Linked DNA regions of Homo sapiens: region 1 is linked to region 2. Evidence: fine-mapped expression QTL. Tissue or cell type: blood mononuclear cells. Region 2 holds a variant in brackets; the other region holds the start of a gene. All regions are shown on one strand. Distances are from middle to middle.

The links. PIP is the estimated chance that this variant, and not a neighbour inherited with it, causes the effect.
Region 1: CYB5D2 starts here. The variant in region 2 is fine-mapped to the expression of CYB5D2 in blood mononuclear cells (TOPMed, PIP above 0.99).

What each region holds. Positions count from the first base shown.
Region 1 is chr17:4,138,814-4,146,934 of GRCh38, forward strand. CYB5D2 (cytochrome b5 domain containing 2) reads left to right here and starts at 4,384. Exons shown (of 4, transcript NM_144611.4): 1 at 4,384-5,192. The coding sequence starts at 4,943. It overlaps ZZEF1 (zinc finger ZZ-type and EF-hand domain containing 1), which reads right to left and starts at 4,217. Exons shown (of 55, transcript NM_015113.4): 1 at 3,729-4,217. The coding sequence starts at 4,082. RefSeq lists a silencer at 3,943-4,112 and enhancers at 3,978-4,529, 4,193-4,502, 4,530-5,082, 4,653-5,232.
Region 2 is chr17:4,201,971-4,209,970 of GRCh38, forward strand. ANKFY1 (ankyrin repeat and FYVE domain containing 1) reads right to left here. Exons shown (of 25, transcript NM_001330063.2): 5 at 7,854-7,977; 6 at 5,963-6,112; 7 at 4,351-4,516. Among named protein-coding and RNA genes, the nearest start is that of ANKFY1, 58 kb to the right of the region's middle. RefSeq lists a silencer at 5,080-5,280. The variant C/A (reference allele first, on the strand shown) is at 3,713.

The sequences.
Region 1 (8,121 bases), 63 kb before region 2:
AACTTAATTTTAATTCTATTTCCCCTCTACATGGCAGTTAATTAAATATTGCTCCTTGTGAGCAAACTGAGAGAGTCCCTTCTCCCTGGACCACACCTACCATGAGAAAAGGTGTGTTGTACTATAAAATGATAATGTTTCAGACTTTGGTCCATGGTCCAACTCCAAGAACTTCTTTATAACACCTCCTCAAGTAACTGAGGTCACAGGAATGTGAAAGCAAGACAGCTGCGTGGACACCAATGGCAGCTAAGTTAGGAAGCCAAAGAAGAAACATGTAACACTTGGAAACTCTCAGCATTATAATAAACCATGCGCACCTTCTCCCTGGACCACACCTACCATGAGAAAAGGTGTGTTGTACTATAAAATGATAATGTTTCAGACTTTGGTCCATGGTCCAACTCCAAGAACTTCTTTATAACACCTCCTCAAATAACTGAGGTCACAGGAATGTGAAAGCAAGACAGCTGCGTGGACACCAATGGCAGCGTAAGTTGGGAAGCCAAAGAAGAAACATGTAACACTTGGAAACTCTCAGCATTATAATAAACCATGCGCACCCGTGGCTATCTGTTTTACCATGTTAGCTCTTATAAAAACGAATGACGGAAACAACTTGTCATTTTAGTTGCTACTATAAAGACATTACTTCACAAGCCCTTCATCTTGCAGTAAAATACAGCAGTATATTCTCAAAAGCTTAGACGTAGATTAACAACGCAGAATTAACTGTGTAAGTATGCACAAAAGTATATACTTATTCAAGTCTAAGGATAGACATTCTTAAAGCACAGAATCAAATGCATGGCTAAATCTTATCTTCTTTGGCTAGTCCTAACTTACTAGTTCTTACAGACAGAGCAGCCATCACAAGATTATCATGAGAGACGGTGGCCACTGTGAGATTATCACAATCAGGTTTTTAAACCTTGGCTAAGCCTCACTCACAGAACTGTATGACCTAGCTATGTGAATCAAAGACTGCCAAATATAACTCAATGTTTTCTCTCCCCTTCCTCAATAATTAAGCCCTGAGTTTTAGCTGAATATATGGCCACGGAAAAAGAATCTTTCCCAGCCTGTCCTGCAGGTAACTGCGGCCATGTGACTGAATTTTGGCCTGTGGGATGTAAGCTATGCCCGTAAGAGAGTGGGCATGGCTTCTTCCTTCTCCTTCCCTTTTCCCTTTCTTGCTTGTTGGAATGTGGAAAATGACAGCAGGAGTCAACAGAATTACTAAGTGGAAGATGTCCGTGGAGGATGACAGCACAAGATGGACGAAGCCAGGTCCCTGATGATGACAACACTGCCACATCAATCTTGGACTGCCTACCTGGACATTTTCATAAGGAAGCAGCTTCTTTTTATGTTTAAACCACTGATGCATTAGGTTTTCTGTCCCTTGAAAAAGTTTTGTGTATCCCTAATACACCACACCAGACTTCTTCCAGATTCTCTGGACTTTGAACTTTTGTGGATACAATTTCCTCTGCCTGAAACGCTGTTACTACCTCCTGTAACACTATCTGCTTTCACCATTCACCTGTGGGCTGAAATGTTACCTTCTCAGGTAAGTCTTGCTTGAGCCCCAAGTGAGGTTAAATACACTTGCTATTTATTCCTTATACCTTCCCCCTCGGTTAACACTCACCATATCTTATAATTAATGGGTTAATACCTGTCTCTTCCACCACAACTACATACTCTTTAAGAGCAAGTATCTGCTTTGTCCACTGTCATCCAAGTGAGTGGCACTCGATATACGCCCAATAAACATTTGCTCAGTGAACAATAATGCCACAACCCCTGAGTGATTTCTGGACCACACCTCAAGTATTTCTTGACCTTCTATTAAGGGACTCCTATGAACTCTACATAAAGTTCTATTTCTGTCAGAAACTCTCAGAATGTAAACGGTGTTTCTCTCCATTTGCCTTTGCTCAAATCTGCAAAGTGCCATCTCCTTCAACAGTTCTGCATGGTTCTTCCCACTACTACTTCATATTCTCATAATACGCGTAGATACTAGAAAGAAGGTACTATGTGTATTCCTGGGGGGAAAAAAAAAGGAGATCTTTCACTAACTAATATGACTTTTTTTTTTTTTTTTGAGACAGAGTATCGCTCTGAGGCCCAGGCTGGAATGCAGTGGCGTGATCTCAGCTCACTGCAACCTCCGCCTCCTGGGTTCAAGCGGTTGTCCCACCTCAGCCTCCCAAGTAGCTGGGATTACAGGCACCCGCCACCATGCCCAGCTAATTTTTGTATTTTTAGTAGAGGTGGGGTTTCACCACGTTGGCCAGGCTGGTCTTGAATTCCTGACCTCAGATGATCCTCCCGCCTCAGCCTCCCAAAGTGCTGGGATTACAGGCGTGAGCCACTGCGCCCAGCCATGACTATTATTTTTAAGGGTTGGGATGCCTTAAAGGTACTTTTTTCATAAGAAACACACAAACTACATTATCTGAATTCTGGCCATGTACAGGAAGACATTCTTAAAATATTTTAAAAGCCTCTGATTTTAAGGTGAACAGAACCTTTTAAAGGCACTGCAAGTACCCGCTGGTTTACTGCTTTATGTACACACCCTTCGTGGCCACTGAAGATTCTACATGACTGGCTAACTCATTTTCACAAAATAAGTACCTTTTTGGTCATACCGTGGTGTTAAAAGAAATAGGATCCCAGGAAGGAGGTAGTGAGACATTAAAAACAAAAAATAGGGTGCGGGTGGAGGGAGAGAGAGCATCAGGAAGAATACCTAATGGATGCTGGGCTTAATACCTGGGTGATGGGATGCTGTGTGGAGTAAACCACCATGGCACACGTTTACCTATGTAATACATCTGCAAATCCAAATCCTGCACATGTACGCCTGAATTTAAAATAAAAGTTGAAAGAAAGAAAAAAAAAAAAAGCAAGAGATCTAGTTGATAGTCTGTTTTACTAATGATTCACTGGGTAACCCTGGATCAGTCTTCTTAACTCGAAGTGAAGCGCCCAGTAAATAAACTCCCAAAATGCCTTCCAAGGAAAATATTTTGTTGCCAAATCAATTTGCTCTCTTAATGACTTAGCAGACATGATCTTGGTGATTATATGAAGAACTGCATAATTACAAGTATTCACAGGAAACCTGGTATTTGCCTATCAGTTTCGGATCCTATGAAGGTTTAAATGAGTCTAATATATGGTTCTTTAAGGATCTACAAACCAGTATGTATTTTAGAAAAGCTAGTTTTTGCATGAGGAGGATAGGTTTTAGAATGTGAGCCTTTCCAGCATGTTACTACTGTCTTTCCACACTTATTCGGCGCCCACACTGAATTGGGAAGGTGCTGTGTAAAAACCTGGACAGGACAATACAAAAAATGGTTCTCAGCGCCACTCCTCCTATCCTTACATCTCTTTTCTCTCCAAACTGTTCGAGAATCTGATAGAAGATCTCCAGAGTAGCGTCAATCAACTGCACAAAGGTCTGCATTACAACATACAGAGAGAGACATATGGGCTTGTCCAGCTCTTCAGAGCAAGGACGGCCTGATGCAGACTTTCCAGACCTCTAACATAGGTTAAAGAGAAACGAAGCAAACGCCTGGTGAAAAGCTGGAAACACCTCATATGGGTCCCCGCCTGGCCTCTCCAAAGCAAATGCCCACCTCTTCCTTCAGTCCCCTGGGGGCGACCGCCCTGCCCCATCCCCGCAGTCGCCTGCCGGCCCTGACCTCCTCGAACTGCTCGCTAGAGCAGCCGGCGCCGCGAGCCTCCAGCAGCTCCCGGAACTGCTCCAGAGTGACAGACTCTTCGCCGCGGCCCAGCCGCTCTTCCAGCCAGCGAAACAACGCGCCGCGATGCCTCGACACCAGCGACTCGCAGGGGGGTGTGGGCAGCAACGCTGCAGCAGCCTCTCGCAGCCTGGCCGGCTCCAGCAGCGCCGCGGCGGGTGGTAGCGCTGGAGCCGCGACGCCCGGGCCGGGGGTCGTGCCCGAGACCGCGGCCCAGTCCTGGTGTGGGCCCCAGCCCTCGCCACCGGCAGCTGCCGCTTCGTCTTCACTGCTGTGACTCGGAGCGTTCCCCATGGGGTCTCCGTCTTGGGCGCCTGGCTCTGCAGCCGCCGCCGCCGCCTCCCCGCCTCGACCTGTCAACCTCCGACAGCAGCTGGCGGGCGGGGACGCGGAGGAGACGACGGCGGCCCCTGCGGCTTCCGGCTTCCTGGCCGTCAAGCGACGACCGCTGTCGCAAAGGCGCCGTCACGTAGATAGGCGGCCTCTACCAACTCACGACAGCTAGGCGGGGAGCGCCGCCTCAAAGGGTGCAACCTTGATTTCCCAGAGGACGAGTCTGTCTCAGTATCTACGTCATTCCGTAGCCTCCGCTGCCGCCATCTTTGTTGGGGCTGACAACCTGCAAGCCAAGAAGTACGAGAAGGGCCAGGCGCGGTGGCTCACGCCTGTAATCCCAGCACTTTGGGAGGCCGAGACGGGTGGATCACCTGAGGTCAGGAGTTCGAGACCAGCCTGACCAACGTGGTGAAACCCTGTCTCTACTAAATACAAAATATTAGCCGGACGTGGGGGCGCGTGCCTGTAATCCCAGCTACTTGGGAGGCTGAGGCAGGAGAATCGCTTGAACCCGGGAGGCGGAGGTTGCAGTGAGCCGAGATTCCGCCAGTGCACTCCAGCCTGGACAACAAGAGCTAAAACTCTGTCTCAGAAAAAAAAAAAAAAAGTACCTGGAAAAAGTCGCAGACAGCGAGCTTTTCGCCAGTGCCAGGAATACAGATAAAACGAGAGAGACTAAGGGAGGGAGCGCGAGCACTAGCGCGCGAGAGAGAGAGCGAGAGCGCGCGCGCCGATGACGTCACGCTCGGCGTCTCGGCCATCTTAGCTGTAGATAGAGGCGGCAACCTCGGAAGTGCGGAGCGGGTGGGCCTATATAGATGTTGAGGTGCGGAGGCCGTGGGCTTTTGTTGGGCCTGGCTGTAGCCGCAGCAGCGGTAATGGCAGCACGGCTTATGGGCTGGTGGGGTCCCCGCGCTGGCTTTCGCCTTTTCATACCGGAGGAGCTGTCTCGCTACCGCGGCGGCCCAGGGGACCCGGGCCTGTACTTGGCGTTGCTCGGCCGTGTCTACGATGTGTCCTCCGGCCGGAGGCACTACGAGCCTGGGTCCCACTATAGCGGCTTCGCAGGTATCAGCGAGGCTGCTCACGCCTTTCTCTCCGCTGGCGCGAGCCAGTAGCCACCTGCGCGTCGTTCGTTGGTTCATTATTCATCTATTTCCCCCCCCATCCCCACCCCACATCCATCAAACCCGTGCGGTGGGCGGGACGAGCTGCATGCACTATCCTTCTAGGCTCTCTGGCTCTGGCGGGACTGTGGGCCAGCTCTGTCATCCACCACCGCCCTGCGTGACTTACATTGGAGAAACATGTCTTCTGTCTCTTGTTACCCATTACCCAGCGTCGGAAGCCCTAGGATACGGGCTGTGTGCCGGACTTTTGTGGGGGCTCTTAGGGCACAGATAAACGAGATCCCGCCCCGCCCCTACCCTCACAGTTTCCTTAATAATTCCAACCATCTCTTCATTATGCCCTGGTCCCAAATAATCTTTCTTCCCCCCACCCCTAAGCATAGTGTTTTCAAGGTTCATCCATGGTTTATGAGCATGCATCAATACTTTATTCCTTTATGGCCCGTCATATAGTACATTTGGTCTGAGTCATTCCTGCTTCTAGTACAAGATGCACCTGTTTGCCTTCCTTAGAAGGTTAGGGCAGAGGAAAGGGGTCCAGTCACCTTTACAGTCCTTGATACGTAGACCAAAGTTGTGCATATGTTAGGCCTCAAGAAACATTTGTCAAATTAAGTTTATGCTGGTGTCCCTGTGTTACAGCTGAGGGGGTTAAAGGATGCGATTTGCCTGAAACCCTCACACCTGAATACTGACAGAATATGGACTCGGACCACCAGTCTAGTGCTTTTTTTTTAAAGATGGAATCTCGCTGTGTCGCCCAGGCTGGAGTGCAGTGGCCTGATCTCGGCTCACTGCAAGCTCTGCCTCCCGGGTTCACGCCATTCTCCTGTCTCAGCCTCCCGAATAGCTGGGACTACAGGCGCCCACCACCACGCCCGGCTAATTTGTTGAATTTTTAGTAGAGACGGGGTTTCACCATGTTAGCCAGGATGGTCTCGATCTCCTGACCTTATGATCCGCCCACCTTGGCCTCCCAAAGTGCTGGGATTACAGGCGTGAGCCACCACACCCGGCCAGCCTAGTGCTTTTTTACAGATGTTGCCTTGCCAGCCAGCGGGACTGACCTCCAAAATTTAAAAAGAAAAAAAAAGTGCAGGGCAAGCCTAAGATCAGCTACTAGGCTGACATTAAATAAGCATTTTCCACTTGTCATTATCTTAGGGGAATTGGGAAGCTGCCTCTAGCACTTAAAATACAAGCCACTTCCCTCTGTCTAGGAAGTACTAAAGAAATACAAAAGTTGACAGAAAAGGAATGAAGTCCAGTTGGTCTCGCAAATCCCCTGAGATAGTCCAGCAGGGGAAGGGACTTACTCAGGGGTACACAGTGAGTTAGAAGCAGAGCTGGGACTGGAATCAAGGTGTTTTGTCGCTGCTAGTTGAAGGCAGTTTTCGTTGCGCTGCCCTGCTGCGTGCTGTGGGAGCTGTCGTTGGATGTTTGCACAAGTGTGGGCATAAAACCTTCGATGTCTGGAGTGCTTTTTATTTTTCAGTGTGCTCTGCTGTTTACTGAGCTCCCGTGTTCTGGTATTCATTGACCATCTTTATTTACCACTACCTACCTTGTGTCAGGGGCTGTGGAATCCAAGATGTCTGCAACATGCTCCCCACCGCCCACACAGTCTAGTTGGGAAGCAGTTATGTCCACGTATTCGTTCATTCAGTATTTTATTTCTCATTGAGATGTAATTCACGTGATGTAAAGTCCTTTTAACGTATACAATTCAGTGGGGTTTTTTGTTGTTTAGAGACAGGGTCTGCCTCTGTCACCCAGGCTGGCGTGCAGTGGCATGATCTTGGCTCACTGCAACCTCCGCCTCCCAAGCTCAAGCAATCCTTCCACTTCAGCCTCCCAAGTAGCGGGGACCATAGGTGTGCACCATCACGTGCAGCTAATTTTTGTATTTTTTGTAGAGATGGGTTTTCGCCATGTTGGCCAGGCCGGTCTTGAACTCCTGAGCTCAAGTGATTCAGCCGCTGAAAGTGTTGGGATTACAGGTGTGAGCCACTGCCCCCAACCTTTTTATTTATTTATTTTTATTTTTCGAGATAAACTGGTTCTTTAGCCCAGGCTGGAGTGCGGTGGCGCAATCTTGGCTTACTGCAACCTCTGCCTCCCGGGTTCAATATTCTTGTGCCCCAGCCTCCCGAGGAGCTAGGATTACAGGCGTGTGCCACCATGTCTGGCTAATTTTTTTTATTTTTAATAGAGATGGGGTTTTGCCATGTTGGCCAGGCTGGACAGGAAATCCTGGCCTCATGTGATCCACCTGCCTAGGTCTCACACAGTGCTGGGATTATAGGTATGAGCCAAAATTCAGTGTTTTTTTTGTTTTTTTGAGATGGAGTCTCACTCTGTCGCCCAGGCTAGAGTGCAGTGGCGCAATCTTGGCTCACTGCAAGCTCCGCCTCCTGAGTTCATGCCATTTTCCTGCCTCAGCCTCCCGAGTAGCTGGGACTACAGGCGTCCACCACCACACCTGGCTAAGTTTTTGTATTTTTAGTAGAGACGGGGTTTCACTGTGTTAGCCAGGATGGTCTCGATCTCCTGACCTCGTGATCTGCCTACCTCAGCCTCCCAAAGTGCTGGGATTACAGGCCTGAGCCACCGCGCCTGGCCCGGTGGGTTTTTTTTTTTAGTATAGCCAGAAATTTGTAAAAATGTCACCACTAACTCTAGAACATTCTTCTCACCCCAGAAAGAAACTTCTTATCTATTAGCAGTCACTCCTTATTCCTTCCTTTGCCAACCACTATCTACTTTCTTTTCCTGTCGATTGGCCTATTGTGGGCATTTCATGGAGTCATACGTGTGGCCTTTTGTGTCTGGCTTCTTTCACCTAGCATCATGTTTTAAGGGTTCAT
Region 2 (8,000 bases):
TTCTGGGAGTAGAAAGAAACTTTAGAATTATTAGGACAAAGGGCCTTAATGAAAAGTCCAAAATATGAGATACTCAGGGGAGAAGGGTTAATGTAGTTTCATTACCTTTAAGCTTAAAATATATTCCAAACTAAGACACAAATACATAGTGGCCGGGCGCAGCGGCTCCTGACTGTAATCCCAGCACTTTGGGAGGCCGAGGCGGGCATTTCACTTGAGGCCAGGGGTTTGAGACCAGCCTGGCCAACATGGCAAACCCAATCGCTACAAAAATAGAAAAATTAGCCAAGCGTAGTGGCATGTGCCTGTAATCCCAGCTACTAGGGAGGCTGAGGCAGGAGAATCGCTTGAACCCGGGAGGCGGAGGTTGCAGTGAGCCGAGATTGCAGCACTGCACTGCAGCCTGGGTGACAGGGCAAGACTGTGTCTTAAAAAAAAAAAAAAGAGGCCGGGCGCAGTGGCTCACGCCTGTAATCCCATCACTTTGGGAGGCCGAGACGGGCGGATCACGAGGTCAGGAGATCGAGACCATCCTGGCTAACACGGTGAAACCCCGTCTCTACTAAAAATACAAAAATTAGCCGGGCATGGTGGCGCGCGCCTGTAGTCCCAGCTACACGGGAGGCTGAGGCAGGAGAATGGCGTGAACCCGGGAGGCGGAGCTTGCAGTGAGTCGAGATTGTGCCACTGCACTTCAGCCTGGGCGACAGAGCGAAACTCCGTCTCAAAAAAAAAAAAAAAAAAAAAAAGAGAGATAAATACACAGTAAAGCTAAGAAAAGATAGGTTAATGAAAAATGTATAATACACCAAACATACAGAAGATAAACTGGGCAATACTGCACAGGTATATGAAAACCTATGAATGACTGGATTCAGATGGATAGCATGATAAAAAAAAATTTTATATCTTAAATCCTTAAGTCCTCTTAGAAGAATTATAGACTTTGGATCAGATTTACTTTATTAATAAGATCCAAATATAAAGTTCTTTTTACTTATAATCATACACATATATATATATATATATATTCACCCCACACAAAGAAGCTATTTAGAAATTACTAGAAATAGAAAATTAATAAAGTTTTACATTAAAAGAAAGCCCAGAGGGTACATAAAGGAAAAGGACAACTGATATCAGAAGAGCAGAACAAAGGGAGGGAACAGAAAATGTCACAATCACCGTTTATAAGGTTTCTGTCAATAAGAAAATGGTTAACACATTTTAGAAAGATTTCAAATCATCAGAAACAGTTAAAATAAAAGCTGGTGCTTAAAAGTTTCAGTTACTTCATCACCTCATTCACTGACACTGCCAGGTAAATGAGGCATGACTATTGACTATTACAATCCGTCCATATAAAAATATTCCTAACAAAAAACTTCACACTAAAAAAATCCATATATAATATTTCTTTCAATGCAGCTTCTTGATGGTTTTATTCAGCCAGTAACCTTCATTATTCAATTAATACAAACCATATTTCATGCTGCTCCAGTTGGTGGCATCATTTTCAAATTTACTAAAAATAACAGGAACAATCTACTGAAGAAACTCATCGGCCAGGCGCAGTGGCTCACGTCTTTAATCCCAGCACTCTGGGAGGCTGAGGCGGGCGGATCACCTAAGGTTGGGAGTTCAAGACCAGCCTGACCAACATGGAGAAACCCAGTCTCTACTAAAAATACAAAATTAGCCGGGCGTGGTGGCAGGTGCCTGTAATCCCAGCTACTCAGGAGGCTGAGGCAGGAGAATCGCTTGAACCTGGGAGGCAGAGGTTGCAGTGAGCCGAGACCGAGCCATTGCACTCCAGCCTGGGTGACAGGAGCGAAACTCCGTCTCAACAACAACAACAAAAAAAAAAAAAAAAAGAAAGAAAGAAAGAAAAAAGAAACCCATCAACTGATGTTGGTTATTAAGGTAAAAAAGTTCAGGAAGAACTGTTTTTATAAAGTGAAGACTCATCTTCTTGCTCAGATCAGGCTAATCCAAGGAGATGGCATCCCTCTGGCCAAACATGTGCCCCCTGTGGACTCCCCCAAGACACTGCCTGCCTGTTCCACTCTTTAGATAAAATGACTGGTATACTTGGTTATTAGGATGATCACTGACTATTTTGTTGACAGATTCTAATGTGTGCTCAGACTAAACCAAAATCTCATATATTAAAGACTTTCACTCTTTAACAGTTAAAGTGAAAAAAACTCCTACAGGAACTGGACCTGGTTATGGCATTTCCAACGCAGGGGCAAGCGATGAATGGCAGGGTTGACCCCACCATTCCCCTGGTAATCACTGCTGGGTGTACTACTAACATTGCCTCGCATTCTCTGAACAAACCAATAAAGCAAAAGTAATTCCCACTTTATGGATAAGGAAGACGTAGAATGTGACTTGTCCAAGGCCACAGAGTAAACAGATGAGCTCAGATTCAAACCTTGGTGAATACCAGCTTCATAAAGCCAGTGCTCTGTCTACCGTAATATGCAACACTCTAAAGTTAGCAAAATCAAGTTTATTATACCCACGCTGTAATCCACATACTTGCAAGCAATTAATAAACTCAGAGTGGAAGGTTAAATCATCTGAAAATAAACATCAAAAATGTATCACTAATTCTTGGCAATTCTTGTATCTAAGCAATCACCAAAATATTTAATAACTCAAAGATGATTTATCATCAAACATAAGAATTAACTCCCTGGGAGGAAAGAAACAAAATTCTCAGATTTTTTTTTTTTAGTAACAGGGTATCTGTTTCCAAAATAAACATCTCAGACACGAAACAGTGTGGGAAAGAATCATTCCCTACGTGGTGGAGATTTCCCCACTGAATCACACTCAGTGCTAAGCACCCGCTGGCTTTGCACAGCACATAACGGTGCTTGAGGAAGATGCATCTGCTCTTGACACTGACATACTCGAAGGATTTCCTACCCAGTGATGAGCAAAATTTTCCTCTCTACCAGCCAGCAAGCTCAGCACTCCAGCACATGGCTTATAAGGATACTTGTATTAAAACCTTGGCCCAAAAAGGACAAAGCTGGCACAGGACCACATCTTGATGTAACTACATTCCACCAACTAGGAGCAATTTGTGAATGGCAAAAATGTAGCACAGACAATAATAGTATAACAATGCATCATCAAAAGGGGAAAATATAGATGATTAAGATGGAACGAAACAAGTAGATTCTCTCTTTGATGTCTACGTGTAAGTAAAAAAAAGTGGCCATGGCAATGCACTTCAATCAAGTCAACCATCCCTCCACAAAACTAACGCTTTGACACTTTGGAAAGCTTTCATTTCTCACTGGAACTCTACCTCTATACAGATTTCACTCTGTCTAAAATGACCATTGCAAAGCAAAATCAGCCCAGATCCATTTGGGACTCATGAATTAGTAAGACTATGGAAAAAAACAAACAAAAACCTAGTATTTTTTTTTTCCTTTGACAAGTTAATTCATTAAGATTAAAATGTTCTGGGAGGACGCGGTGGCTCACGCCTCTAATCCCAGCACTTTGGGAGGCCAAGGTGGGTGGATCACCAGGTCAGGAGATCGAGACCATCCTGGCTAACACGGTGACACCCCGTCTCTACTAAAAATACAAAAAATTAGCTGGGCGTGGTGGTGGGCACCTGTAGTCCCAGCTACTGGGGAGGCTGAGGCAGGAGAATGGCATGAACCCAGGAGGCGGAGCTTGC[C/A]GTGAGCCAAGATCGCACCACTGCACTCCAGCCTGGGCGACAGAACAAGACTCCGTCTCAAAAAAAAAAAAAGATTTAAATGTTTTGTTCTCAAGTCTATCATTTCTGTATTCTTCCAACTATTAACAATGCATTCAAAATATAGCTACAATTTCAAATAACTCTGCTAGAACAAAATGAAACTCTATCAATTTATCATAATAGAGGCCTAGCCTGTTAAAGTGAAAACCCTGAAGCTAAGAACACGTTTCAAGGTTTATGGTTTTGCTACTATCCTTGTATCTGTGGTAGAATACAAAAGCAAAACCTTCCTAGCACAATTCCTGGAGAAAGCCATCCATTGAACAAGCAAACATATCAAGTGCTTACAAGTAAAAGGTACTTCTTCACACAAGTACCATCTTTGTAGCCTTTCTTTCTGGGGCCCTGTTGGCACGGTGAATGGCCAAACTAACACGGCATAGGCAACAGCTCTTGAGTGCTTCCTCTGACCCAATGATCAAATTCTAGATCATGTAGCCTGTGAGTACAGACTACAGAAGCCTTTGAGAATTTTGGGAACAAGGTCAGAAAGTCTTCAAAAATTACTCGGATAAAAATAAAATTGCCTGCAGGGAAACATACACACTTCTTCCTACCTCTTTGGATTCCTTTGTGTAACAAGCTCCAGCCACTCTTGTCCACCATGTCCACATCAGCTTTGTGACTAACCAGCGTGGTGGCAATACTCTCCAGTCGTCGTGAGAGGGCTAGATCTAATGCCAGATCTCCGTTATGATCCGCTTCATTCAGCTTCCCAGGGAGCTACACAAACAAGTTTGTAAATTAGCGCCCAGTGAGTAGAGAATACGACCTATTTTAATTTCTCCCACCTTGACCCTTAAATATCATCTCTTATACAAATGTCAAATTTAAGTGCTCCAACACTGCTTACTCCCCAAATTCAACTTTATTCACAAACTTCTATCAGGCTTCCTCAGGGTACATGTTTTCAGGGAGTACAGAATTAATGGGGACCACATAGCCAACATAAACAATGTGGGAGACGATTAAAGGCCACCAGGAAAATGTGGACAGAGTGCTGTGGGGCACGAGTGCCAGGCAGAGGCTCAGAGAGTTTTACGGTGAACAGCTAATGTTTTCATGAAAGGCAGTGGCGTTCCTATTTCATTCTTCCCAGCAGTTTAATGTCTCCCCATACACTGGACACCCGGGATAAAACATACTTCGCTCCCATCTGTCAAGAGCCATTACATTTCTTTCAAGGTCATATGGTGGGCAGAATTATCACCCCCCCCAAAGACGGACATGTCCTAATCCCCAGAACCTATAAACATACCACGTTACATGGCAAAAGGCACTTTGAGGATGTGATTAAGGACCTTGTGATGGGGACAGTATCCCAGATTATCCAGGAGGCCCGACCTATCTAACCACAGAGGGCCCGACCCATCTAACCACAGAGGGCCCGACCCGTCTAACCACAGAGGGCCCGATCTATCTAACCACAGAGGGCCCGATCTATCTAACCACAGAGGGCCCGATCTATCTAACCACACAAGTCCTTCAAAGTGAAAAAGGGAACCAGAAGAGTAAGTCAGAGAGATGTGACATGAGAAGCACCTGACCCACCACTGCTGGCTTTTAAGACAAAAGCCGGGGGCTATGAGCTAAGGAATGTGTGGAGGGCTCTAGAAGGTGGGAATGGCCCTCGGCTGACAGCCAGCAAGAAAATGGGGACCTCGATCCTGTAAGTGCAAGAATCTGAATTCTGCCAAAGATCCAAATAAGCAGGAAATGGATTCTCCTCTTGAGTCTCTGGAAAGAAGCACAGCCTGCCGACATCCTGATTTTGGGCCAGTGATTCCTGTCCTAGACTTCCAACCTACAAAACTGTAAGGCAATACATTTGTGTTGTTTTAAGCCATTAAGTTTATGGTAATTTATTATAGCAGCAAAAGTAAACTAACACAGATTTTGGCACCTAAAAGTTAAGAAGCGTTTAAAAAAAAAAAAAAACTACCTAAAAGCATTTAAGAGGTTTTTAAATTGGGCAATGGGCTAAGGCTGGAAGAATTTTGAGAAACATGTTAGAAAAAGCTCAGATTGCCTTGAACAAACTATTTAGTAGAAATCCGTACGTTAAAGACTGTGCCAGTCATGGCTCGGAAGGAAGTGAGAAGTACCACGGAGAAAGACAAGTGCATTAGAGTTTCGGGAAATGAAGAATGGAAAAGGCAGCTACAGTACCTGGGAATCCATTTCAATCAGATACAGGAAGACCACGTCTTCTCTCTCCACTTTGATGGCTTTATGTAGCGGGTACTCTGTCTTGGATTTGATCATTTTGTATAACAACTGAGCGCTCATGCTGCTGAAATCCTCCTTCCTCAGGTCGTCCTGAGAATTCACAACACAGTGAAAAGCAGAACAGACACAAGGCAATGAATCCAACCACCATTTAGCAAGCCTCTCAAATGCATCAGTCAGGCCCTTCTTTAAGGGCTTAACCTTTCCCAACTCATTTATTTCTCCCCAAAACCCAATGAAGTAAGTACTTGAACATCCCCATTTTACAGAAGAAAATATTATGGCATAAAGAGATTAGATAACTTGCTCAAGTTCAGACAGTCCTTAAATGGCTGGGGAACCAGAAGGCTGACGTTCCGAGCCTCACTCTCCTCCAGCATTACTGTGCCTCCCAGTGAGGTGGCAAAACACCAGCCATGCATACCTCTAACAGGAATGCGCCCCAAGGGAGCCTCACATGAGAGCAGGGAGTCCTCCTCCCACCCCCTGAAAGATGGCAGTTACAAAATCAATTCCAACTTCCACAAACAAGTCACTCCACTGAGTCGCAGCTGGTCCCTATTATTGCAGATCTCTATATTTCTGCCTATTTTAAAAGAAAGGTTACCAATCCTGTTTCAATGCCTTAAAATCCAGTTCTTTAGCCGCCTTTTCTGAAACTCTAAGGCTTTTCCCACAGTGTTGTTGAATACCAAACAATTCGCAGAAACTAATTTGCAAAAGGTAGCACCAGCCCTAATATTCTAAAACTGCAAACAACAACAACAAAATGTAAACACTGGCCGGGCGCAGTGGCTCACGCCTGTACTCCCAGCACTTTGGGAGGCCGAGGTGGGCGGATCGATCACCTGAGGTTGGGAGTTTGAGACCAGCCTGACCAACGTGGAGAAACCCCCGTCTCTACTAAAAATACAAAATTAGCCAGGCGTGGTGCTGCATGCCGGTAATCCCAGCTACTCAGGAGGCCAAGGCAGGAGAATCGCTTGAACCTGGGAGGCGGAGGTTGCAGGGAGCTGAGACCGTGCCATTGCACTCCAGCCTGGGCAACAAGAGCGAAACTCAGTCTCAAAAAAAAAAAAATGTAAACACTGTTCTTTATGATGAAACAACCTAAGAAAGGGAAATCTAAACTGAAAGATGCTCTCCGCCTGATTAGGAGAGCAAGGGCAAGCTCTGAAACTGTGCTGCTGAAGCTGCAGGGCCTGCTGGCCGTGGAGCCACACCCTACTCCTGCAGCTCAGCAGCAGCTTCCACAGATGGAGGGTGAAGGCAGGTGATGCTTCCAAGCCTGTTTCTGGACCTCAGCTATCTTTTTTGGGGGGGCGGGAGACGGAGTCTCGCTCTGTCACCCAGGCTGGAGTGCAGTGGCGCGATCTCAGTTCACCGCAACCTCCGCCTCCCGGGTTTACGTGATTCTCCTGCCACAGTCTCCTGAGTAGCTGGGACTACAGGCACGCACCACTGAGCCCAGCTAATTTTTGTATTTTTAGTAGAGATGGGGTTTCACCATGTTGGCCAGGCTGGTCTCGAACTCCTGACCTCAAGTGGTCTGCCCGCCTGGGCCTCCCAAAGTGCTGGAATTGCAGGCGTGAGCCACCGCGCCTGGCCAGACCTGAGCTATCTTTTGTCCTTTGGCTCCGAAATCACAGAACTACCAGAATTTGAGTTGAAAAGAGTCTCATAGATCATCTAATCAAACTATTTATTCTTCAATTGTGTAACAAGAGAAAACCAGGTGCCAGAGAGGTCACTTTCCATGGAACTACGTCCCCAGCGGCGGTCTCCTGACTGCCAGCTAGAGTGCTTTGTTGACACCCTCAACCTCACTCACCCAATGACTTGCAATAATTTCTGCACAGTAGTTCATCAGTGTGCTGGCATTCAGCTCCTCTGCCGTCTGGTAGAAGCGAATACAGTTCCTGACATTCACTAGAGACATAACACCCTTCTCACATCTGTAAGAGAGTATTCATCATGA